Homo sapiens: one gene and its partners. The protein of the gene in region 2 purifies or fractionates together with the protein of the main gene of each other region. This does not show direct contact. Each region holds a gene or a part of one and is shown on either strand. Other genes may lie near its edges. The genes, in order: NCAPD3, DNAJC13, PRMT7, MAP3K4, EDRF1, OCRL and ARFGEF1.

Region 1 (3,500 bases), on a different chromosome or scaffold from region 2:
TTCTTAGAGATTCCAACATTCCTCTCTCAACAACAGATAGAACAAATAAACAGAACATCAGGAAGCATATGTAAGTCTTGAATAACATTTGTAACCAACTTGACCTAACTGACATTTACAGAATACTAGATCCAACAAAGGCAAGGTACACATTCTGTTAAAGTGCAAATGGAAGATTCACCAAATTAGACTCTAAGTCCATTAAAAAAAAAGGCACAACTAAATAATTTAAAAGTATCATAATCATATGAAGTATGTTCTCTGATCCCACCAATTAAAACTCAATTACAGTAAGATTTCAGGAAAGTTCAAATATTTGGAAAATAAACTCAATTTACTAAACAACTCAGAGATGTAAGTAATGACAAGAAAAATTTGAAAATCACTTTGGCCTGCACAACAGTAAAAACATATCATCGAAATTTGTGGGATGCAGATGAAGCTGTACCTGGAGGGACATTTATAGTATTAAATACTTGTATTAGAAACAAAGAAATGCATGTGAGAACAAAGATCTAAGCATCTACCTTAAAAAGTCAGAATAAGAGCAAATTAAACCCAAAGTAAGAAGAAAGGAAATCGTAGACATAAGACCAGAAATCAATGAAACAAGAAAGGGACAAACAACAGAATTTAATTAATGACATCAAAAGGGGGCCCTCCAAAATGAACAGTAAAATGAATAAATCTCGATCTAGATTGATCAAGAAAAAACAAAATACAAATCACCAACATCAGGCATGAGAGGAGATCACTAGAAATTCTACAAACATAAACTTCTTTCAAAAAACTCCAGGCCCAGATGACTTCACTAGTGGGTTCTACCAAACATCTGAAGAAAAAAGAAAACCCAAAATCTTCCAAAATACAGAAGAGAAGGGAATACTATGTAACTTATTCTATGAAAATGGTATTACCAAGATACCCAGATACTCAAACCAGACAAAAATATCTCAAAAAAAGAATATCCCTTATGAATATAGACAAAAAACCTTCAACAAAATATTAGCAAACACTCTGACAACATATAAAAAGGATTATACACCATGACCAAGGTCATACAAAATTGGTTTAATATGTGAAAATCAACCAATGTAATATACTATATTAGAATAAGAAACAAAAACCACATGAGCACTTCACAAGTGCAGAAAAGCGAATGACAAAATCCAACAGCCTTTCATAATGAAGCACTCAGTAAACTAGGAATAATAACTTAATAAGGGCCATCCTGAGAAACCCACAGGTAACATCATACCTAAAGGCAAGACTGGATGCTTTCCCCTTAAGATCAGGAATAGACAAGGATCCCCACGCTCCCCTTCTATTCAACACTGTACTGGAGGTTCTAGCCAGGGCAAATAGGTAAGAAAAATAAATAGAAAGAACCCAGACTAGAAAGAAAGAAGTAAACCTGTGTCTATTCACAGATGACATGATCTTACACAAAGAAAACCCTGTTGGAACCAACAAATGAGTTTGGCAAGGTTCTAGGATAGAAGATCAATAATCAAAATCAATTTTGCTTCTATACAGTACTAATAAACCAAAATAAAATTAAGAAAACAATTTCATTTACACTAGCATTGAAAATAACACTTAAGAATAAATTTTAAAGGGGAGATGCAAGAGTTGCGCACCAAAAATTATAGAGCATTATTGAAACAAATTAAAGAAGATCTACAATAAATGGAAAGACATCCTGCGGCTAGGGATTAGAAGACCTAATGTTGTTAAATTGGCAATACTTCACAAACTCATCTACAGTTTCAATGCAATCCCTGTCAAAACCGCAGCTGGCTTTTTTATTGTTGCAGAAATTCACGTACAGATCCTAAAATTCACATGGAAATGCAAGGGAGGCAGAACAACCAAAACGATCCTGAAAAAGAATATACTGTGATCGAATGTTAAGTATCGACAGCATCCCAATCATAAACCCGAAACATTTAAAAACAGAAGGTAACTGGCAGGAATACGGCTTGCTGGAAAGCTGCAAGTGGCCCACGCAATTAGTAACAGCCACCTCTTTGCTCTGGCATAAATCTCAACCTTAATCAGAAGAAACTGCATCTGGCAAGAGGAGAGTGAAACTGGGTTTCTAAAACCACTACTTTTTTGAGAGAGGGCCTAGTTACAACCGAGACACTGCTTAGCAACAAAATCCTTTAGGAACTTACTCATTTCCAAAGTCATGATGGGAGCATTAACAACAACACAAATCAATGTTCAGGGCTTTAAATATAAGACCTTTTTGCCCATTCCCAGATCACATGGAATAAATCCTTTGCTAAACATTTGTAATTAAACAAAGATAAGCAGCAAGGTGACTGATCTTGCCATTCTCTTTTCCATATGAACTTCAGGTTATCTGACTCAATCTCTATGTTCCACTCTCTCTCACCCTGTGTTTGGAGTAGGGAAGAGAATGGATTTCACTGTCATAGGAGGAACAGCCTCCTCAGTGCTCTGACAATCAAGTAAAACAGTGCTCGAAAACAGACTCCTGGTCAGTGCTCTCCTTCAAGTATTACTAGCTGCTTTCCTGCTTTCTTGATTAGAATGGTTTTAATCTATTTTTCAATACCAACATCGGAGAGGTAAAAAGCAATGACTCCCCACAGCAGTATTTCTCAGTCTAGACAAGGAATCATGAGAAGAAAGGGCAATATCAGAATTTTAGACGGCCGTGGTGGAGGGTGGGCGTGGAACTCTTGCACTCCTTCTCAGACTATTTTTATTAGTTTATAGATAGCATAACTTCGGATGAAAAAAAAAAGGGGGAAGGTTTTCCAAGACCTATAACATGCCATGTACTTTAGAGACTTGCTCCTCGCAACAACTCTCTGCCATGGGTTAGCACTGCCCCATTTATAAGTGAAGAAACAAGAAACAAAGTATAAGAATTGAAAACTGTAGAAAGAAAAAAATGACAGAAGATTTATCCTATCATATCAGGTCTACATACCTGGTACTTCTAGTAGCAAAAAGTAAAGCCCAGCGGCATGAAGGCCATATTCTCGATACTGTACACTGACATTCTTCTTATGAACTATTTGAACAAAATGATAGAACAATGCCACCAGTGTACTATGGGAAACATTGTTCTCAATGAAGAAGGTCCAGATACTCTGTGGGGAGACCGCAAATCACAAAAGCCAGTCATTAGAGAAATGGAAACATTTCCTATTATTTGATTTTTGTAAGTTCTTGGTGCCTTACAAAAAGAGGAATAGAGTAGCCTGGCTCCTACTGCTAAATGTTTACCATCTTCAAAGGGACTGAAACAAAATATCAAAATTAAAGGTATATTATTCAAAATTACCAAGATAAATATGTATATAACATATTTAAATAATTAAACTTTCAAAAGAATTTTTTGTTAAGTTTGTAGCATATATACTTCAGAAATTATAGCTTAAAACTACACTAAGACTTTTGGGACACCATATATTAGTGATTATTCAGGAAAGTTATCCCTCTATTTATATTAAAAGGAA
Region 2 (3,500 bases):
GTCATTATTATTTTATTGTTACAATTTATGTTTCCCATAAAACGTTTTTAAAAAGAAAAAAATATTGCCGGGTGCGATGGCTCACGCCTGTAGTCCCAGCACTTTGGGAGGCCAATGCAGGCAGATCGCTTGAGTCCAGGAGTTCAAGACCAGCCCAGGCAACATGGCAAAACCCTGTCTCTACTAAAAATACAAAAAATTAGCTGGGTGTCATGGCACAGGCCTATAGTCCCAGCTACTTGGGGGGCTGAGGTCAGAGGACCACTTGAGCCTGGGAGGCTGAGGCTGCAGTGAGCGAGCCCTCATCTTGCCACTGCACTCGAGCCTGGGAGACAGAGTCAGACCCTGTCTCAAAAAAAAAAAAAAAATATATATATATATACACACACACACACGTGCACACACACACACACACACACACACACATATGTATATATAAACACCAAGATAATCAGGATAGATGAAATTTTTAAAAATCATCTTGTCAACTATAACCCAACACTTAAGCTTGTCTTTTATTTCAACTTTATTCCTACAAAATACTATTACAAGTCAATCTTATTTACTACATTTTTAATATTCCCCACTTAGGTATTTGAAATTTCAGTTGTTAGAACTGTTTCCTTACATGTATCCAACCTAATATTTTTAAATTTATGTTTGATGGCTACAAATTAACTATGGCTTGAGAAACTTTCAAGAAAAAAAAAACTTCACAAAATAAATTTAATCTGCAGTCAATATTTCCTCTGTACATTAATAAGCTCTAAAAGTGATTCAAAAAAATCATCACTTATAGGCAAAAACTCTTAAGCAACCATTGATTTCCACTATTTATGATGAAAAAAATCTGTAAAATTTCTAGTATCAGAAGCTCAAGTATCAAGCAGGTAATATCAGTAACAGTCAAATATAAGCACATGCTATCAACAACCACAAACTGTCCAACTAAAAAATGTAAACAGTTAAATGGGATCTTGAATGAGATCTTGGTAGCAGCTGTATCACTAGCATTTGCCATTCTGCCAGTTGTTTAGAGGCTATTCGAAATAGCAGGAATTTATCTGCTCAAACTAACGTCACTTAAATTTCATCTCCTTCATTCCTGCAATTGTGTTCCATATTTCAAATTCTCAAAGACCCATGATTCTTTCTGATGAGGAAAAATCAAATTTACATGCCTTTTGTAATTAAATTGCATTGAAAGCATCTCCAATTTTTGCGAGTCAGCTTCACTTGTTTTCATGCTATATCCTAAATTACACCACCAAAGAAACTTCTGTTTGTTCTTTTTATAGAACTGTCCTATGGGTTAAAAAGTCAAATTCAGGGCAACACAGGCATTTTGGCTAGATTCACCTCTCTCAATGAATACTACTGCATCATGCTTTCGAACAACACAATATTCTTGCATTCTCTAATTTATTACTGGCAGTAATACTGGCAAACCATTTAAGATCATTTATGGTTAAAATGAGAATGATCTTTTAGAAGACACATAATTTTGACAGAAAACCACAGGATTTGGGAGTCCAGTGAGAAGAAGCCTACATCAAGTTGACACTAAGAACAAAAGCAAGATGAAGGGACTCAACACCACAGACACTCAAGCCAATTACGGTCAAGCTATAAGCAAAAAAATTTACACACACAGCAAAATTAAGTATATACACATGGCTTGTGTTAAGCAAAAACACAAGCAGAACACTCATTTAACTAGGGATGAATGAATACACTTAGAAAAAAATACACTAGTGAAAGAAGGATTGGCATTAATCAGGCTAGTCACCTGTTTAAAGCACGTATTTAGCATCATCAACTGGAAGTAATTTTTACACAAATATGACAACTTGCAGAGAACAGGTAAGCTACTGATTTTCCCATTTTGAGTCTGTAAAATGCAAGAACGGAACTTACTTTCATTAGCTCTGCCCTCAATAACTAAAAATGTGAATTTGTTTTGAAATGCATAAAAAATAAGATGGATTGATGGAAAGATGGACAGATCTGTGATAAAGCAAGTACAGTAAAATGTTAATGTAAAAACCTTTAGGTGGGCATGTGGGTATCTAATGTAAAGTTCTTTCAACCTGGCTGTAGGTGAAAATGTTTACAATATGTTGGGTGAAAATTGTGGAGTTTGCCTTTTCTGATCAAACTCTCCTACAACAGAAACAATGCTACATTCCAAAACCACACTTAAAATGTAGCAGACATTCACATCATAGGAACTAATTTATGAACGTAATACTTCCTACAGCTATATCTTACCAAAAAGGGAGGGGTAGTAAGGAGAACCATGGAAAGACTAACCCTTTGAAAAAATAACTAATAAGAGTAATAGATAGAATATCTTATATTGGCTTCTTGAGGATCTAGGTTTGTTTGTAACTGGATTCAAAATCTGAGTAAATCATAGCACTAGATTAGTTTGGTTTCAAACAAATGGTAAAAAATATGAATGGCTAACAGAATGTTCATTTTTACCCAGATTAAATAGCTACAACTAAACTGTTTAGATAGAATGTGCTGTGTATGGGGGAAACTGCCATATGAACTTTAACCCTATTTTTAAATTTTAGCTTCATTTTAATATATGACTCAAGTACAGGTAAAAGCATTTTCTTCTAAATGAACAACAAATCAGTATGTGTAATATGTATGATACCAACAGGAATCTTAAAACAAACCATAAATACATCACAAAGATTTTAGTACCTACCATCTTAGCCTTCCTTAACTTACTGAAGAACCCGATACCTCCAGAGATAGATGTCGTTGAAGAATAAAAAAAGCCAGCGGTAATATCAAATTTCATCTGATAATCATATCTTCAAATAATTGCCCAGATATTTTAAAGTGAAGTGATTGTACTGTCACATCATAATCAACTTTTAACTAGTTTCACTACCATAGGGTAGCTGAAATAATATGAGATCTCCACCATTGTTTTTAAAAACTTGATTCCTTTCTATTACAAACTGAGTATATATTAATGAAATACAGGGCAAGAAAAATTCAAAAGCAACCCCTAAATCTGAAGAAACACTTAATGGGAGGAGGGGACAAGCATACTTACCATAGCAGTTACTTTTTTTGACCTCTTCTATTCAACAGTATAAATCAAGTATTGAAAAGAGACCTGTCTCTTCTATTTCTATCACATGTATGCTCATTTCATCTGAGGGGAATAATTTGTATTTCTGACAAAACAGAAGTTTATCTGTTGTTAAAAAAATTCAAATTTTCTGTGAAAGATGTATTACTATGACCCTTCCCTTTCCAAAGCTTAAAAATGCCTTAAAATACTCACCTGAAAGCTTTCTTTCCAGAAACATGTTCACTTAAGCAATGCTTTGAAATCATTGCTATTGATCATTTACATATTTTTAGTTTATACACATTATTGTAACTTTATAGACCTAATTTCTATTTCATTTTATCTTTGAAGCATAACCTGGCTTATGCAAGAACAAACTATACTATTTCTGTAAGGTCTT
Region 3 (3,500 bases), on a different chromosome or scaffold from region 2:
CTCTCCACAGTGACCTCAACCATGCCCTCTTCACTGAGTAAATCCATGCATCTCTGGGCCTCTTTGCTTGGCTGACCTTTAGAGAGCTCAAACTCTGTGTAAACCAGAAGAATCGCCCTCACCACTTCCCAACCTTCCCAAGGCTACCCCTCTTCCTGCACTCCCCGTCAACAGGAAGCACCACCATCCAATCCAGGTGCCCAAACCCTAGCATCGATATCTCTACACCTAAGGGACCACCAACTCCTGGGACCACCTATCAGGCCTCTGTCTACAGCCTTAGCTGAGGCCCACTGTACCACAGCGTCTGGACGATTCCACAGCCTTTTAACCCACCCGCAACCTCCAGCCCTATACCCCAACTGCCCTCCACACATCTGCCTGCATAAGTCTGCTGTCAATCCTCTGCTTCAAACCCTCCTGTGATGCCACCCCACCTTCTAATGACAGCTACCCTCTGGGCATGGCCCCCAAACCCCACTCCATCTAGCCCCTGCCCAGCTCTCTAGCCTCAGTTGCTAAGCCCATCTCTCCTGCCTCCCACACAGCACAAAATCCAAAGCAGGCTCCGGAGCCACCGCACCGATTCAGTCTCACGTCTAGCACGTGCTGCTCTCCTCTACCAGAAATATTCCATCTGCCAGGCCAACACCTGATCACTTCTCAAGACTGACAGCTCAAGCATCGCCTTCCTGAGAATATTTGCTGAACTTAACTGAATTTGAATATAGTTTCTTGCTTTTCAACTCTAACCTATTAAGATTTGGCATTCAAGGGACATGAAAGTTTTAAGTGAGGAGAACCAGAGCCCCCCCAGGAATGGAGGGGTGTCCCAGGTGTATCAGAGGTGCTGAGGGCTTGGGCTGTGTGGGACACGGTGCATGAGTGAGTGCTATGTGAGCTGGCTGAGACCACAGACACGTCTGAGGGAGCCCTCCGTCTACTACCTCCACGAGATGCCTGTGTGCGTGCTCATAGGAGGGCAGCGCCCCCTCCCCGATCAGCTCTGTGTCAAACAACTCTGTGACCAGGATGTTGGCACGGCATGGCATGTCACCCTCTGAAAAACACAAGAAAACAGAGTTGGACATAAGCAACAGACTAGGAAAAATATTTACAGCAAATATGGGAAAGATAAGTGGTTAAGGGGCCATCACGCTAAAAGCACATATACATGCTGAGGTATTCAGAAGTGTCAGGATGTCTGCAACTGACTTGCCAATGGTTCAGGAAAAAAAAAAAATCCATATGTAAATGTATGACAAAACGCTAATTGATAAATCTAGGGTAAGGGATCATAAGTGTTTACTGTACTGCTCTTACAGCTATTCTGTATGCTTAATATTGGGAGGGAGACTGCAAAAAATGATAAGAAAACTATAAATACCCAATGGATTGAGTTCAGGAGTTTGAGATCAGCCTGGGAAACATGACAAAACCCCATTTCCACAAAAAATACAAAAATTAGCCAGGCATGGTGGCTCACGCCTGTAATCCTAGCACTTTGGGAGGCCAAGGCAGGAGGATCACTTGAAGCCAGGAGTTCAAGACCAGCCTGGCCATCATGGCGAAACCCCATCTCTACTAAAAATACAAAAATTAGCCAGGTGTGATGGCACACGCCTGTAACCCCAGCTACCCAGGAGGCTGAGGCATGAGAATCACTTGAACCTGGGAGGCAGAGGTTGCAGTGAGCCGAAATTGTGCCACTGTACTCCAGCCTGCGCGACAGAGTGATCCAGCCTGCGCGACAGAGTGAGACTCTGTCTCAAACAAACAAAAAAAACACACACCCAAAAAGAAACCAGGTAAAAATATAAACAGAAAATTCAAAACAGAAATCAAACTTATGAAAACTTTTTCATCCCTATTAGCAATTAGAGAGATATAAATTAACAATTAAACTATTAACCACTAAATTAGAAAAATTATTTGAAAAGCAAAAACAGAATGCTGGTATGTCAAATACTTCTAGGTTGCAGGGAGAGGGAGGGAAAGCCAAAGCAAGACAACAAGGTTCTCTGATGATCTTCCAGCTACTGTGAGTTAGGCTCTGGCAGCCAAAATTGAGATCCATGACTTAGAATCCCCAGATCACTATGGCAAATTCCCTTAATGAAAGCGCCTTGTCACCAAACAATCTCTTAAATAACAGTTGTTTTAGGACAGTAGGATTTTAGAGAAGAGTAGGATTTGGGAGGGATCTTCTGTTAACTGTTTTCTAAACCTCAGTAATGTACTGCTACTTCTACAATTATAATTTTTAATGAGCCAAGAGCCAAAATAGACTTTGGAAGGGGCTATTCATCAGGGAGAATTAACTGTAAACACTTTTAATGCCTCATGAATTATAATCTGACAAAGCCCACTCATTTCCCCTACACAGAGCACAAGTCTCACAGATGACACAAGGAAAAGAGAAGCATGAAAGCAGCTGACAGGGGCCGGGCGCGGTGGCTCCCGCCTGTAATCCCAGCACTTTGGGAGGCTGAGATGGGCAGATCACCTGAGGTCAGAAGTTTGAAACCAACCTGGCCAACGTGGTGAAACCCTGTCTCTACTAAGAATACAAAAATTAGCCAGGCGTGGTGATGGGTGCCTGTAATCCCAGCTACTTGAGAGGCTGAGGCAGGAGAATCACTTAAACCTGGGAGGCAGAGGTTGCAGTGAGCCGAGATCACGCCACTGCACTCTAATCTGGGCCAGAGTGAGACTCCATTTCAAAAAAAAAAAAAAAAGAAAGAGAGCAGCTGATAGAAGAGCACAACAGAGACAGCGTGAACCTCGAGCTCGAGGCTGGAGCCTGGCCTGGATCTCACTTCCTATCCCTGAGCCCTCCGTTCTGACCATCAGTTGCCTCATCAGTAAAACGGGTGAATGGGCTCTGTCTCATGTGGTGGTGGTCGGGATGATGAAGATAAAAAAAAAAAAGCACACTTCCTATGAAGCTCACCTGTGCTCCATGACAGTATCACGTGGAGGAGCTTAAGAAGAAACTTCTGTCTTCTGCCACAGAGACCACCCTCCCGAGAAGCCCTGCCCATCCTCTCTGATGTCACATCAAACTCCAACTGGAATACACTGTCCAAAACTCATCCCACCCACCCCAGCTAACACGCCTGCTCCTCCCTCCAGGGTTTCTGCCTCAATCAATCAATGAGTCACATAGTCCAGGAATCTGGGCATCATTTACTAGTTCCAGGACAGCAGGACCGCTGACTGCCTGTCCACTACTGTACCCCAGCACCCACAAGGTCTAGTGCCCCGTAACAGTCAACACACATTAGATAAATTATTGATTTCTGTCACCCTACAACCCACTGATCACCCACTCTGCCAATTCTATCTCCTGAATGTTTAAACCAATTATATAACTTAAAATGCTTTATAGTCCAAATTGCTTCATTAAAATAAAAATCAAGAGCCAGGCACAGTGACTCACACCTGTAATTCCAGCACTTTGAGAGGCCAAGCTGGGCTGATCACTTGAGGCCAGGAGT
Region 4 (4,112 bases), on a different chromosome or scaffold from region 2:
TTTTACTTAGCATATGAGTGACTTTTTTTTTTTTTTTTTTTTTTTTTGAGATGGAGTCTCGCTCTGTCGCCAGGCAGGAGTGCAAGTGGCATGATCTCGGCTCACTGCAACCTCCGCCTCCCGGGTTCAAGCAATTCTTCTGCCTCAGCCTCCCAAGTAGCTGGGATTACAGGCACCTGCCACCATGCCTGGCTAAGTTTTGTACTTTGGTAGAGACAGGGTTTCACTGTGTTGGCCAGGCTGGTCTCGAACTCCTGACCTCATGATCCGCCTGCCTCAGCCTCCCGAAGTGCTGAGTGACATTTTTAAAGATTGAGAATACTATCTTTTAGAGAGTATATAAAGAAACACACATGTTTTGGACAGAAATTCCATGTGGTAGGGCTGCTCCGGAGACATTTCCAATCTCTATCAAAATTTTAAATGTGCATAGCACTTAAACCAAGAAGTTTTCTGCTTCTGAAAATGTATCTTATGATGATAATATTAATGAGCAGTTATACAAATGTAAAAAGACACGCATGAACTGCACATGGTAGCTTACCGTACACATACAGTATTATAGCAAAAAAGTTAGAAACCTTCATTTCTAAGTTAAAAGTTAGTGTTAAGTTACTAGTAGGAAATCAGTTAATTATAATGTAGCTATGCCTTGCAGCTGCTGAAACAGATCACATATAAGTGCTCAGTAAATATTAGCTAGCATTATTTCTATTAGCATTAAAATAGAAAGGCAGTTGTGATATCTGTGTTATTCCAGTAAAGCCACACATAAAAGAACAGGTTCTCATATTGAAGAATACATATTGGCAATGACGAAACAATAGTTTAGAAATTAGAATGCCATACACACTTAGTTCCTTCCCCTGTGAATCTCATTTTTCATAGGATCATAATGAAATAAGCTTTGCACTAATGCAATTTTTATTTTTCAATAAGGTAGCATATTAACCATCCCTATAAGAGAATTGGGTTTTATAGACTTTTTTATGTCATTTTATATATTTTTTAGTTGCATGATGATGGCTTCTAGATACTGTTGGACTAAATAGTGCACCCCAAATGGAGTAGGCAAACTATGCTGGCCACCTGTTTTATAAATAAAGTTTTGTTGGAACAGTCATATTCATTTATGTGTTGTCCATAGCTGCTACCATGCTGCCATGAGATTAGTGAATAGTTGTGATAGAGATCATATGGCCTGTCAACCTAAAATATTGTTTGGCCCTTTCAGTAAAAATTTGCTGTCCCCTGATATATATTAATGATGAGATGCTTAAAAACAGACTGAACATTTGCGTTGTTTGTGGCTGTGTAATATTAAAATCTGATTTTTTAAAAACATCTTTTTTAGAGGCCTTGGCATGAGTATGAGCACAACTTTCAAATTATGTATAAAGTGGGGATGGGACATAAGCCACCAATCCCTGAAAGATTAAGCCCTGAAGGAAAGGACTTCCTTTCTCACTGCCTTGAGAGTGACCCAAAGATGAGATGGACCGCCAGCCAGCTCCTCGACCATTCGTTTGTCAAGGTTTGGCAGATTACTGGATAGTCTTTTTCATGTTTAAGTGTTTAAGTTCTGTTTTGCATCAAGACGTTAATGAAATTTTGAAACTTTAAAGTAGCTATATCTGAAGTGGAAAGGAACTAAATGTATTATTATGCCAGGGATTTTTGTATGTGTTTTTTCATTTGGAAAATGTTCATTGAGGTTCTTCCACTTGATCTGTTTTGATGGTGCATTTAAGATACACCAGAGACAGTAAAATGGACTTTTAGATGGGACTGGATGAAAGAGTTTCCACTCTTGAGAGTGTATAGTCTACTTGGAGGGTCAAGACGGTAATGACTAATCATTATACTGAGAGCTGTGATAATGGTATATAAGGTTACTCAGAAGAGGAATTTAATTAAGTCAGCCAATCTCAGTTCTTTTTTCTCTAGAATGAGGTACCTTAGTTGTTTAAGAGCCACAGCCAGGTCAGAAGTGGGGGAGGGGGCATGGAAGACAAAGTAAAGAAACTTGGAAACGCTCACCCTTCCGGGAGAGTGGGATGGTCACAGAGCCCTGTGTAGGTAGATCCTGGTGAACACAGGATGTGGACAAGGGCAGGAAGATAAGGCTAGAACAGTAACCAGGAGCAACATGAAGGAGTTTCCATTTTATTATAAACATAAATGATGACATAGAGTTTTAGAAAGATCACTCTAGAGGCAAAGGAATTGAGAAGGTTCTGATACAGCCAAGGGGTTGGGAGAGGGCGTTCCGGGTGAGTGAACAGCGGCATTTAAGAGTTAGAGTGCCGTGGCTGACCCCTGATTGGATGTGAAAGGTGAGTGAGGGGAGGAGTCTAGAGTGGCTCCCAGGTTTCTGGTTTGTGTCATCAGGTCACAGACTCTATTTGCCAGGGTAGGGAAAGAAGCAGCTGGGTGAGGGGTGGGTCGGGAGGTGGTGGGTCCTCTTTGGTGGATGAAGCTTGGGGTACATTTGGAGCATCTGCTTGGAGATTTCACATGGGCATTTGGATACCTGGGGCTGGCACTCAAGAGGGATTTTGGGTAGGGCACAGGTGTGGGAGACAGAAGTATTGCTGGGAGGGTCCACAGAGGACAAGGGGATGAGAACAGAGCCCTGGAGAAAAGAGCCTTGCAAGGGCCCTGCAGGAGAGAGTCCCTGGGAAAGGAAAGGAAGGGGCAGAAGAGTGGGGTGATGCTCTTATTGGTAAGTGGGAGTAAGGGGCAAGCAGCAGGATCAGCTATGGAGACATTAGGGATTTGTAATTAAATAACAATTTATGTCTTAGTTATGAAGTGCATAACAATTTATATTGACCTGAGAGTGCATATAGGCGTTTTAGAAAATGCTTTCATTAGTCAGTTCCCAGGCTTAACTTTAGAGCAGTAACTTACCTCTGCCATTGTTCATTACATTTCTTAAGCCTTGCCCTCTGTGCCCAGTACAGTGCTGGGAGCATCAGGATGAGTGGATGGGGCCTTCCCCGTAAGACTCATACTGCGCGTATGCACAAGCACACACCTGGCTCTGCAAGAGCTCAGCTCTCTCCTGCTTCCTCACAGGTTTGCACAGATGAAGAATGAAGCCTAGTAGAATATGGACTTGGAAAATTCTCTTAATCACTACTGTATGTAATATTTACATAAAGACTGTGCTGAGAAGCAGTATAAGCCTTTTTAACCTTCCAAGACTGAAGACTGCACAGGTGACAAGCGTCACTTCTCCTGCTGCTCCTGTTTGTCTGATGTGGCAAAAGGCCCTCTGGAGGGCTGGTGGCCACGAGGTTAAAGAAGCTGCATGTTAAGTGCCATTACTACTGTACACGGACCATCGCCTCTGTCTCCTCCGTGTCTCGCGCGACTGAGAACCGTGACATCAGCGTAGTGTTTTGACCTTTCTAGGTTCAAAAGAAGTTGTAGTGTTATCAGGCGTCCCATACCTTGTTTTTAATCTCCTGTTTGTTGAGTGCACTGACTGTGAAACCTTTACCTTTTTTGTTGTTGTTGGCAAGCTGCAGGTTTGTAATGCAAAAGGCTGATTACTGAAATTTAAGAAAAAGGTTCTTTTTTCAATAAATGGTTTATTTTAGGAAAGCTCAGTTATATTGTCTTTTAATGGTTAACACTTATGAGCCAACGCAGTATGATACAGAAGTCTGTCATTTTCACTCATCTGTTCCTCAAAAGGAGGAGCACAATCACGTGTGCTAAAGATGGTCACTGGGTTCGGCGTCTCTTTAGGATCGCCTCGCTGAAAAGCAAAGGAAATAAATGAAGCAACACTAATGACGTAAGGTGGTTCCTTTTAAGTAGTTTCTATTAACCAGCAAGTTTATAACAGATACAAGTTTAAGCCTTGTTATCACATGTTGGGAGTTCACTTTATTTTTAAACCAAGATGTTTAGGTGCTAGGTCAGTGTAATTACTGCTGAATGATCTGATGAGAAAGCATCTTTTTCAGAAGTAAACATTTCAGCATTTAGCTTTCCAAAACAGCCCAAATTATACATCATTGGTGTTTTTTTTGTTTTTGTTTTTGCTATTAAATTTTTTAAAAAGATTGACCATAGAGCTTCCTGAAATCTTTTTGGAA
Region 5 (3,500 bases), on a different chromosome or scaffold from region 2:
AACCTCATGAGTGACACCTGTCTCCTTTTTCCAGTCTATGTGTCAACCTGTCAAAGTTTACCTTCCTAAAGCACAGCTTAGATCAGCGTGAAAGCCTGTCCTCAAACATGAAAACGGCTTCTCCCCACTTAGCTAGTTGCATGTTTCTCAGTCTCACTTCCTACTTGTCCATCCTACTACCCATCAGCCAATGTTAAGTTACTGCTTGTCACCTATAAACATGCCTGTTTTTCCTATCTCCCATCTTAGTTTACTGTTTCCTCTACAAGGAATACTCTTTATTTAAAGTCCAGCCCATCGCTACCTTCTTTACTCAACAAATGATCATTTTTCTGCCAAGTACTGTGCCAGGCACTGGAAACTGTGACATGAAGTTATATGGCCTCTATCCTTGATAACATAAACCACAACAAAATATGTTAAGTGTAATTAACAGACAAAGAACAAAATACTGTGGAAAATTTTGCTCTGCAAATAACAAAAACACCCACCCCTTCCCCCAGCCTGAAGGTTTCTCATTTTTTAATCAGCTAGAACACAAGTCTTTCAAGGCAATGAAAGGTACTTAGTCTTCATTATGGTTTAATGTGTGTATGGATTTTTTTCCTCTGCTGATATAAGCATCATCTGTGAGTAAGAGGCATTGTGAGAAACTAAAATTAAGATGAAGTTCTTGTTCACAACCGTGTGTGTGCATGTGTGTGTAAAACCATTTAATGCTGGAACTCTGACATAAGGCAGGCTCACAGGACAAAGTGGTAAGAGAATCAAGTAATTCTGATGGAGAACAGAGGGAAACATGGAGATTCTGAGCTTGAGCAGGATTTTCAACAGGGGAGATGGAGAAGGAGACAGAAAAGGCATTTCAGAAAAAAAGAATGGCAAAAGTCCTGGTGTGATCTCCTTACTGCCTGTAGGCCGAAGCCTGGCATACCAGCAGCACTATATAAATGCTGGGGAAATAAATCTATTCCTCTCCTACCTCCACCATGTTTGTTCAGGAAAAGAAGAAGGGTCCAGAAAGCGCTTCCACTATGATTCAGATGTACTTCAAACATACAGGCTTTCTACACTTTTTTTTTTTTTAAACAATTGAAACTGATTTAAAAGGGGGAAAGAAATAAGGTTGGAAAAAGAAATACAACTTAGGTTAAAATAAGAAATTCACAACTTCTGCTTCGAAGTCCATATATTCTTCATGATGTTATATTCCTGAAGAACTAGATAATTTAAAAGTGACATTTGTAGCTTATTCAAGTACTGTGCAGTAACAACAGCCTACACTTCTATAGTGCTTATTATGTACACTGTTCTGAGCACTTTACATATATTAATCATTTAATCATTTAACAACCCTTTAAAGAAACCATTATTATCGTCTCCATTTTGAAAGAGATAAAAAGTGACTCAAAGAAGTGGAGCAACTTGCCCTCGCAAAGCCAAGATATGAAGTTAGGCAGTCTGGCTAAGTCTGTGGCTCCTACACGATCCAGCGAGAACTCCACCAGGCTGAAGCATTAGTTCCCCACTGTGGGTAACAGGAAGATGCAGGCTCCTTATGCTCTTATTAGAAATGTCCATGAAACATCAAAATTATCCTTTTTATATTTCAAATGAAAGAATACTACCCCTAATTCCAGTTCACAGGATATCTTTTTCTCAATGCCTTTCAATTAATGCCTTAATTGACATAAGTCTGCTGTTGATAAAGAACCAGTGTATTATTCTATTGAAGGCCTTATTTGCACATCAATTCAACTTACTTTTGTCCAAAAACAAGGCCATCTGCTTCTCTAGCCCCTCGGGACCCCCTCTTGAGGATTCATCTTCATATTTTAACGGGATTGGAGTGCTGGGGTCAGCTGCTGGAAGGTCGCTTTCTTTTTTGATGCTGCTATCGACAGATTTTAAACCCTGCAAAAAAAGGAAAAGCATTCACTATCTATCTAACTTCAGGTCAACTGAAAACTAAATATAAGACAGTATCTGGACTACTGAATACGTTTAGGAAAATTTCCATCTCACAAACAGACTTTCAAAAACTATGTTTGATCTGAAAGATTTGGGAAAAACAAATCTGATTTTCACTTTATGCTTAAGGAAAAAAAAATCGCAGCAGAACACAATTCAGAATAACATTTAGATACCAACAAACAAGTGTAATTTGCATAATCAAGTACAAACTTTACGAAAAAAGTGAAGACTAAACTTAAACTTACCTCTAGAACATAGCTAAGCACAAGTCTACAGCGCTCTTCTGTGTCATGGCAAACTGGAAATGCACAACTGGGCTTGAGGAACAAACATAAAATTATTAATACACTACCAATGTATTAAGGTCAACATATTGTTTTTGTTGAAGATTAAATTACTGTAAGCATTATCAACAAAAATCTTGCTTAAAAAGATCCTACAACATATATGTTGCTTTAAGTACTTACAATTTTAAATACAATTCTATTATGACAAAAAAGCAAGAACTAGAGTAGTAATGTTTTAGACAAATATAGACATCATCTAATAGGTCAGCTCCACTCATAATTAGCACCGATACTGGACAAAACACAATTAACAATTAGCGTCAATTTAGAAATAACAAGTATCACCAATATTCTCGTTGTTTAATTTATTTGCTTAATTAAGGAGCAAAAGCAGCTAGCAACCTCCAACTATGAAGGATATTATGTGTAGGGGCTTCTGTGAAGCATTTCATTTCGCTGAATCCCGTGGGGTTGGAATTACTGTTCTCATTGCACAGAAGAGAAGCATGCACAGACAGTTTAGCAATTTGTCTGAGGACACGGTGAGTGAGTGGGGAGCTGGGACCCTGGAGCTCATGCTGACTGTCCATACCACAAAGTCATTCAATGAGGATAAGGAAAGGCTAACTAAAGACATGTTTATATGAATACTAAGACTGCATTTTTTGAGTGCTTCAGATACGGAACAGAAAGTGCTATCTGTGAAAAATAGTGACACTAACTCATTACATCTTTAATTATTACCTAATTGCCCCGTAAGTCCATGGCCTAGTGTTACAATGCAGTTTTCCAGATACATGTAACTTTTGCAATCAATGATTATAACCAGAACATTTTTTCACTCCACTGTGGAAGTTCAAGCTGAAAGTGAACTAAAATTTAGATGGACAGTTAATGACTTTTTCCTGCAGTCATTTAGTCAAATATTTACTGAGCACCCATAATGTGTTCTAGACATGGGAGATAGAGGGTCTGTACCTGCAGGGAGCTTACGTTCTAGTGAAGCAAGACAAACATTAAGAACTTCAGGAACAGATAGGCTCCTTGAAGGACAAAAAAGTAGAGCATGCTTTGGCCAGAGTGGTCAGGGAACATCTCCCTGAAGAGGCAACATTTCAGTCAAGACTTAAGCCTTAAAAAAGGCAGCCATGAACAGACCTAGGGTAGGTACATTCCAAGCAGAAGCAACAGCAAATACAAAGACCCTCCAATGAGCATAATCTTGATGCTTTTGAGAGA
Region 6 (3,500 bases), on a different chromosome or scaffold from region 2:
AAGTGTTCCTATTTCTCCACATCCTCTCCAGCACCTGTTGTCTCCTGACTTTTTAATGATTGCCATTCTAACTGGTGTGAGATGGTATCTCATTGTGGTTTTGATTTGCGTTTCTCTGATGGCCAGTGATGGTGAGCATTTTTTCATGTGTTTTTTGGCTGCATAAATGTCTTCTTTTGAGAAGTGTCTGTTCATGTCCTTTGCCCACTTTTTGATGGGGTTGTTTTTTTCTTGTAAATTTGTTTGAGTTCATTGTAGATTCTGGATATTAGCCCTTTGTCAGATGAGTAGGTTGCGAAAATTTTCTCCCATTTTGTAGGTTGCCTGTTCACTCTGATGGTAGTTTCTTTTGCTGTGCAGAAGCTCTTTAGTTGAATTAGATCCCATTTGTCAATTTTGGCTTTTGTTGCCATTGCTTTTGGTGTTTTAGACATGAAGTCCTTGCCCATGCCTATGTCCTGAATGGTAATGCCTAGGTTTTCTTCTAGGGTTTTCATGGTTTTAGGTATATTAATTTCTTTAAAACTAATCATTTTCTACCACCACATCTACTCCTCAACACATCTCTGCTTCTATGCTTATTAAATCCCATTCTTCACTGACCTCTCTCTGCTGCCCCTGTTTTTAATAAGCACAGCCATTAAAAAGAATAATGTAGATCTATATATACTGGCTTGGAAAGGAATCCACAATAAATAGAATAATACAGTCTTATACACCAAGTACCTATGTGTGTGTTTGTATATGAATAGACAAAAGGCTAGAATAGTGCTATTTAATAGAATTATAATGCACCTCACAATATAATTTTAAGTTTTCTAGTAGCTGCATTTAAAAAGAAAAAAAACAAGTGAGTATCAATAAATTTCATTTTACTCAATATATCCAAATTATTTCAACATGTGATCAATATTTTAGAAATCAAGATATCGTACATCTTCTTCCTAAGTCTTTAAAATCCAATATATAGCTTATGCATACAGCATATCTTAATTTGGACCAGTCACTTTCAGGTACCTAACAGCCATATATGGCTACTGGTTGTCATATTGGACAGTACAGATCTAAAAGGCTACACACCCAACTGTTAAGAATGGTTTCCTTTGGAGAGAGGGACTGGCTAGGTAGAGAATAAGAAATGAGGAAATTTAACTTCTAATTTTATCTTTTATTACATTTGCAATGAATATTTCTATTTTATCATAAAAACAATAAAAACTGACTCCAACTACAGACCCTCCAGCATTATTCTAGGTGCCCCACTAATAGAACTATCTTTTCCTCTGATATCAAGTCTAATTTCTCTGCCTCAATGATTCTGTTATTACTCAAAAACCCTCTCCTTTGTGACCCCAATCCCTCACTGGTAATCTTTCACTCTTCACAGCTCTACAGTATCTCACATTTAATCTCTACACTATCCAAACTCCTGTAGCCACTACTCAAAGGCTACAGGTGAGTTAACCACTTACTCATGTTTCATGATGTTCAACTGCGGGAGGGTCTGATTTGGGACCACAAAACTCATTCTCGCACAAATGTCCTTATAATCTTGATTCCTTCTCTCAAAGTCCTCCACGTGTGCAGCCAGATGGGAATTGACAATGCAAAAGGTGGTGTTGTGAAATACAAATCTCACAGCTACCCCACCTTTGTTTCCCTGTTAGCAAGAGTAATTATTCAATTAGTACACAGAACAAGCAACTGAACTTTACATGAACATGAATAATAATCAAGCTCATTTCCAAAGTAACTCACCATTTTCCCCATGATTCCAGTTCCAACTGTTTCTGTAGCAATATCACGAATGTATCGACACTGATCCTTTCTGGCAAATATAAGAAGCATCATCCCAACAAGGCGCACCAGTTGAACCTATGAGTTCCGGGGAGTTACAAAAGGTTAATGTTAATACCAATCTTTGCCACATTTCTAATGTCCCACGACTAATTTTCCATCAAGATGATATACTAGTGCCCAAATCTGACTTCATATCCTCTAATTTCTCAGTGGACCCCGTCAAGTGGAAACTAATATTCTCTGGGGAGGCTCTAATCTGGCACTGACCAATAAGAGTTAAAAGCTGGGAGGGACAATGAGTACTTTCAGCTCTAGATCTATTCTTTTAATCACTTCTTAGCCTACCAGGAGTAAGCAGCATTAAAAGTTCAAATAATAAAGCCACTATCCCAGCTTGTTCCTTCCACCTTTCCTTCCTAGTTTCTGATGTCTAATTTTCTAAGAAATTGAAATCAACCAAACAGCAATCTTTTTTACTTATTTTTAACTTGTGAACTACAGCTAGAAATATGTCTGAGATATACATTAGTCAGGGACCTATATGAGAGGAATAACATCCCCAGGAGTTTTATTACCTATATAAACTGTTAGAAGATGTAGAGAAAAATTACTCACATTACTTCTTTTAGAGACCTTAGTATGATAGCCCTGTAATTAACTCTTCTGGTAGCTAAATGCCTTTACCACATACCTTCTAAAGACAAACAAATTGGCCCATCTTGCTAAAGTCAACTCTCCTCTTAACTTAAAACCAAGTTTAGAACTCGTTCAAATTCCACACCACTTCTATTCTTGCTCTGATTGCAACACATGCACCATGCGCCCACGTTTCATATTGCTTTTCTGTAAAGCATTCAATTCTGACCATGTCAGTGAGTAATCTAAATCTTATATGTAATTATTTCAAACTAAGTATTGATATAAGCATAATAAAATTCTTTTTTCCCCTAAAAGCTATCTAAGCAATGAAAATATAGTATCAGAAAGCTTAGGGATTTTTTTTTCTAGGAAATAAGGATGAATGATCAATCTGCCCTATCCCAGTATTACACACAGAGAAGAATTCAATTAAACTATTCTTTTGGAACAAGTTGTAGATAATGGAATAACTCCCGGTGAGCCCTATTTAGTCATACACTTAAAAAGATAATTAAATGCGGCTTACTTTCTTATACTTGGCTTTGGAATGCAAACCTCTCTCTACAGCCATGGACCATTCTTGTTCCTTCACAGATTCAAAGTAGAAGAAGGCTTCTGTGCTCAAGTCCAGTTCTTGGAATCTGAGGAAAAAAGGGATATGAGATCTATACATATCCCATAATTATCTCTGGCTACCTCCTGTCCCATATGTTGAAACATTAGATGAAAAAAAGATGGGAGAGAGATAAATTTTATAGAACTGCTCTGTTCACCCAGGTTATCAGTAAGAACAAGTAGCTTTCTTTTCTAAAGAATTCCCACAAGTACATTCATAAGCTATGCAAAAAATAAATCAAAATACCTCCCACAGAGGATAACAGCAGAGCTTTGCTCTTATATCCTAGGAACTGTCACTGTTAGAACTGACCCCAAGTCTTAGTTTCTATGCAGAATATATAGATTCCTACGGGTTTCAAGAAAATTAGATGCTTCCTTACACCATTTTAGGTATCTGTTCATTTCTGTTCTCACAAATTTGACCCGCAAGTTAACTCTCGTGT
Region 7 (3,500 bases), on a different chromosome or scaffold from region 2:
CAGTTGAAAGTGAAGCTAACTTTTGGATTCTAGTCCAGAGCTCTTTATAGGCAGTTATGTTTTGCCTATTTCAGTGGCACATATACTAAAATTGTAGGCAGTTATAGTGTCCATTTTTTATAAATTATTTTTTATTAAATTGCTCACTGGTTATTTGTGAAGCATTTAAATTATTTTTTGAGAAGTTAGTATACTGAATGTATGGGTGTTATGTTTTGCCTTTAATAACCCTACCTTTTTTCTTGAAGGCTTTCAAGGAATACACAAGCGATGATATGAACGTAGCACCTGAAGACAGGGTGTGGGTGAGAGGATGGTTCCCAATTCTCTTTGAGTTATCCTGTATCATCAATAGATGCAAATTAGATGTAAGAACCAGGTAACAATCTATATTTGTAATTAAAATTTTGGATTTATTTTGACTTTAATCAAATTAACTCTTCTTTATAAACACAATCTCACAGTTAAAGACCATAAAATCAAGTGTTTTGTCAAATATATTAATTATTAGGTATATTTTAAAATATGTTAATATGATTTAAAAATATTAACTAGAGCAAAATAAAAATGGAAATACTACATTATTTTTAAAATATTTGATTATAGCCTCCATTTGATTTTAGCTTCTAAGTTAATTTAATCCTTTAAACATTCCGTCTTTTCATATATTTGTTTCCAATAATAAGTTGAAGTTAGTGGCAAAATTTATTTTATTTCCTGATGAATGATAGAAGAATTTTTAACTGCACATCCTTGCTGGGTTTTAGGTGAAGAACCATTTCTTTTTGTAACCTGGTCAGTAACATAGTTTGGAATAATATAGAGCTATTCAAATAGAACTCTTTCAAAAGTATATTGCCAATAAAAGATCATTATGAACATATAGTCAATCTGTAAAGGAACTATTATGGGTATTATGTAACTGGCCAAATGCTAACACACTGTTCTTAGGTCACGGCTCACATGATTCCCATAGTAGTTTTTTTACCCTGTACTTTGCCACATTGAAATGGCCAGCTTGTGTGTCCTAATATCTGTCAACCTCTAAACCCACCGTGAGTTCAATTTTATGGTAAACAAAATCTTTTAGGAATCTTTCCATCTTATTTGGAAGAATCTTCTGTTATTTGGATGTGTAACTTTATCGAATTTTTTGAATTTCTAAAGGTAGCACAGAATGAATCTCTCTTTTCTCACCTTATGCCAGAACCACCCCCATCCCCCACCAAGGTTAAATTTGACTTATATCCCAAGAAATTTTTCATTTTTATAGTATTATTTGTTACAACAGAAATTCGTATGAAATAGATAATCAAAATAGGACTTAACCCTTAGGGATTTTAATTATGAGAGCACTATAGAAAAACATTTTATTTTATATTTAGACATGGTGGATTGTTTATCAGTGGACCTGTTAGGAACTTGTTAAAATTCAAGATAGCCCCATTTCAGCTGTCCACCTGCCTCAGTGGAGCGGCTGACATATCATGACTAGCAGGTCATGAAAACTCAGCACCCTCTCCCCTCACCCTTTATTTATTTGTAGAAGTCTGTTTGATGGAGGATCCACCTGCTTTCTTAGCCTTCTGTTGCTTGGCACTGTGATACCTTATTTCTCACCATATTCCATGTTCAGATTATGGGTAGATTCCAGTTGTTAAAGAGGTTGTGTGTGTTCTAGTTAGTAAAGGAGAGAGAAAAGATCAGTAAACTTTGTTCAGTGATGGCCTTTGATTTTCCTACCTCATCCCAGGATATGTATGGGTTGCTATTTAGCTTCCATCTTAAAATGTGGGCCGGATGCCATGGCTCACATCTGTAATCCCAGCACTTTGGGATGTCAAGGTGGGAGGATTGTTTGAAACCAACCTAGGCAACATAGTGAGACCCCATCTCTTTGAACAAAAAGTTAACTAGGCATGGTGGTCATGCCTCTAGTTCCTGCTGCTCATGAGGCTGAGGCGGGATTGCCTAAGCACAGGAGGTTGGGGCTATGGTGAGCCCTGATCACACCACTGTACTCCAGCCTAGGCAACAAATTGAGACTCTCTGTCTTTAACAACAACAAATAGTGCAGCACTATAATTGGTATAACACTGTGTAGAAAGAATTTCTTGTGTGCATTCTTACTTAATTCTTCCAAAATTCTCTAGATTTGGGGATAAATACCGAAAATTAAAGTCCCAAATATAGTCAGGCATCATTTAATGACAGGAGTATGTTCTCTGCAATGCATTAGTAGGCAATTTCAGCATTGTGTGAACATCATAGCATGTACTTACACAAATCTAGATGGCATAGCCTATTGCTCCTTGGGTACAACCTGCACAGCATGTTACTGTACTGTAGGCAGCTGTTAATACGGTGGTGTTTGTGTATCTAAACATATCTAAACAGGCTGGGTGCAGTGGCTCACGCCTGTAATCTCAGCATTTTGGGAGGCCAAGGTGGGCAGATCACCTGATGTCAGGAGTTTGAGACCAGCCTGGCCAACCTGGTGAAACCCCATCTCTACTAAAAATACAAAAATTTGGCCAGGCATGGTGGCCATACCTATAATCCCAGCACTTTGGGAGGCCCAGGTGGGCGGATCATCTGAGGTCAGGAGTTCAAGACCATCCTGGACAACGTGGTGAAACCCCTTCTCTACTAAAAATACAAAAATTAGCGAGGCGTGGTGGTGCGCACCTGTAATCGCAGCTACTTAGGAGGCTGAGGCAGGAGAATCGCTTGAACCTGGGAGGTAGAGGTTGCAGTGAGCTGAGAGTGCCACTCTACTCCAGCCCAGGCAACAGAGTGAGACTCTGTCTCAAAATAAAAATAAAAATTAAAAAATACAAATACAAAAATTAGCCGGGTGTGGTGGTGCACACCTGTAATCCCAGCTACTTGGGAAGGTGAGGCATGAGAATTGTTTGAACCCAGGAGGCGGAGGTTGCAGTGAGCCAAGATGGCACCACTGCACTCCAGCCAGGGTGACAGTATAAGACTCTGTCTCAAAAAAAAAAAAAATACATACATACATACATACATACATACATACATACATACATATACATATATATATATGTGTGTGTATATATATATATATATATATATGTGTATATATATATATATGCATGGAAAAGGTACAGTAAAAACATGGCATAAAAGATAAAACCTGTAGGCTGGGCATGCATGGTGGCTCACGCCTGTAATCCCAGCACTTTGGGAGGCCAAGGTGGGCGGATCACGAGGAAAGGAGATCGAGACCATCCTGGCTAACACAGTGAAACCCCGTCTCTACTAAAAATACCAAAAATTAGCCGGGCGTGGTGGTGGGCACCTGTAGTCCCAGCTACTTGGGAGGCTGAGGCAGGAAAATGGCTTGAACCTGGGAGGTGGAGCTTGCAGTGAGCAGAGATCATGCCACTGCACTCCAGCCTGGGCGACAGAGCAAGACTCCATCTCAAAAAAAAAAGAAAGAAAAAAAAAAGCAACAACAAAAACCCATATAGGGC

The links.
Region 1: the proteins of DNAJC13 (region 2) and NCAPD3 purify together in Homo sapiens (co-immunoprecipitation; one large-scale study listed by IntAct). This does not show direct contact.
Region 3: the proteins of DNAJC13 (region 2) and PRMT7 fractionate together in Homo sapiens (co-fractionation; one large-scale study listed by BioGRID). This does not show direct contact.
Region 4: the proteins of DNAJC13 (region 2) and MAP3K4 purify together in Homo sapiens (affinity purification with mass spectrometry; one large-scale study listed by BioGRID and IntAct). This does not show direct contact.
Region 5: the proteins of DNAJC13 (region 2) and EDRF1 purify together in Homo sapiens (affinity purification with mass spectrometry, with the first as the bait; one large-scale study listed by BioGRID). This does not show direct contact.
Region 6: the proteins of DNAJC13 (region 2) and OCRL purify together in Homo sapiens (co-immunoprecipitation; one large-scale study listed by IntAct). This does not show direct contact.
Region 7: the proteins of DNAJC13 (region 2) and ARFGEF1 purify together in Homo sapiens (affinity purification with mass spectrometry; one large-scale study listed by BioGRID and IntAct). This does not show direct contact.

The regions. Positions count from the first base shown.
Region 1 is NC_000011.10:134,213,968-134,217,467, forward strand, and holds part of NCAPD3 (condensin-2 complex subunit D3), read right to left. Parts: intron 3,132-3,500; coding exon 2,969-3,131; intron 1-2,968.
Region 2 is NC_000003.12:132,424,002-132,427,501, reverse strand, and holds part of DNAJC13 (dnaJ homolog subfamily C member 13), read right to left. Parts: intron 1-3,500.
Region 3 is NC_000016.10:68,335,019-68,338,518, reverse strand, and holds part of PRMT7 (protein arginine N-methyltransferase 7), read right to left. Parts: intron 1,061-3,500; coding exon 948-1,060; intron 1-947. UniProt on the Homo sapiens protein: Arginine methyltransferase that can both catalyze the formation of omega-N monomethylarginine (MMA) and symmetrical dimethylarginine (sDMA), with a preference for the formation of MMA.
Region 4 is NC_000006.12:161,113,769-161,117,880, forward strand, and holds the end of MAP3K4 (mitogen-activated protein kinase kinase kinase 4), read left to right. Parts: intron 1-1,354; coding exon 1,355-1,534; intron 1,535-3,081; coding exon 3,082-3,102; 3' UTR 3,103-3,612; downstream 3,613-4,112. UniProt on the Homo sapiens protein: Component of a protein kinase signal transduction cascade. Activates the CSBP2, P38 and JNK MAPK pathways, but not the ERK pathway. Specifically phosphorylates and activates MAP2K4 and MAP2K6.
Region 5 is NC_000010.11:125,736,709-125,740,208, reverse strand, and holds part of EDRF1 (erythroid differentiation-related factor 1), read right to left. Parts: intron 2,292-3,500; coding exon 2,220-2,291; intron 1,915-2,219; coding exon 1,764-1,914; intron 1-1,763. UniProt on the Homo sapiens protein: Transcription factor involved in erythroid differentiation. Involved in transcriptional activation of the globin gene.
Region 6 is NC_000023.11:129,560,759-129,564,258, reverse strand, and holds part of OCRL (inositol polyphosphate 5-phosphatase OCRL), read right to left. Parts: intron 3,081-3,500; coding exon 2,966-3,080; intron 1,876-2,965; coding exon 1,759-1,875; intron 1,661-1,758; coding exon 1,473-1,660; intron 1-1,472. UniProt on the Homo sapiens protein: Catalyzes the hydrolysis of the 5-position phosphate of phosphatidylinositol 4,5-bisphosphate (PtdIns(4,5)P2) and phosphatidylinositol-3,4,5-bisphosphate (PtdIns(3,4,5)P3), with the greatest catalytic activity towards PtdIns(4,5)P2.
Region 7 is NC_000008.11:67,221,782-67,225,281, reverse strand, and holds part of ARFGEF1 (brefeldin A-inhibited guanine nucleotide-exchange protein 1), read left to right. Parts: intron 1-248; coding exon 249-379; exon of another isoform or gene 380-593; intron 594-3,500. UniProt on the Homo sapiens protein: Promotes guanine-nucleotide exchange on ARF1 and ARF3. Promotes the activation of ARF1/ARF3 through replacement of GDP with GTP. Involved in vesicular trafficking.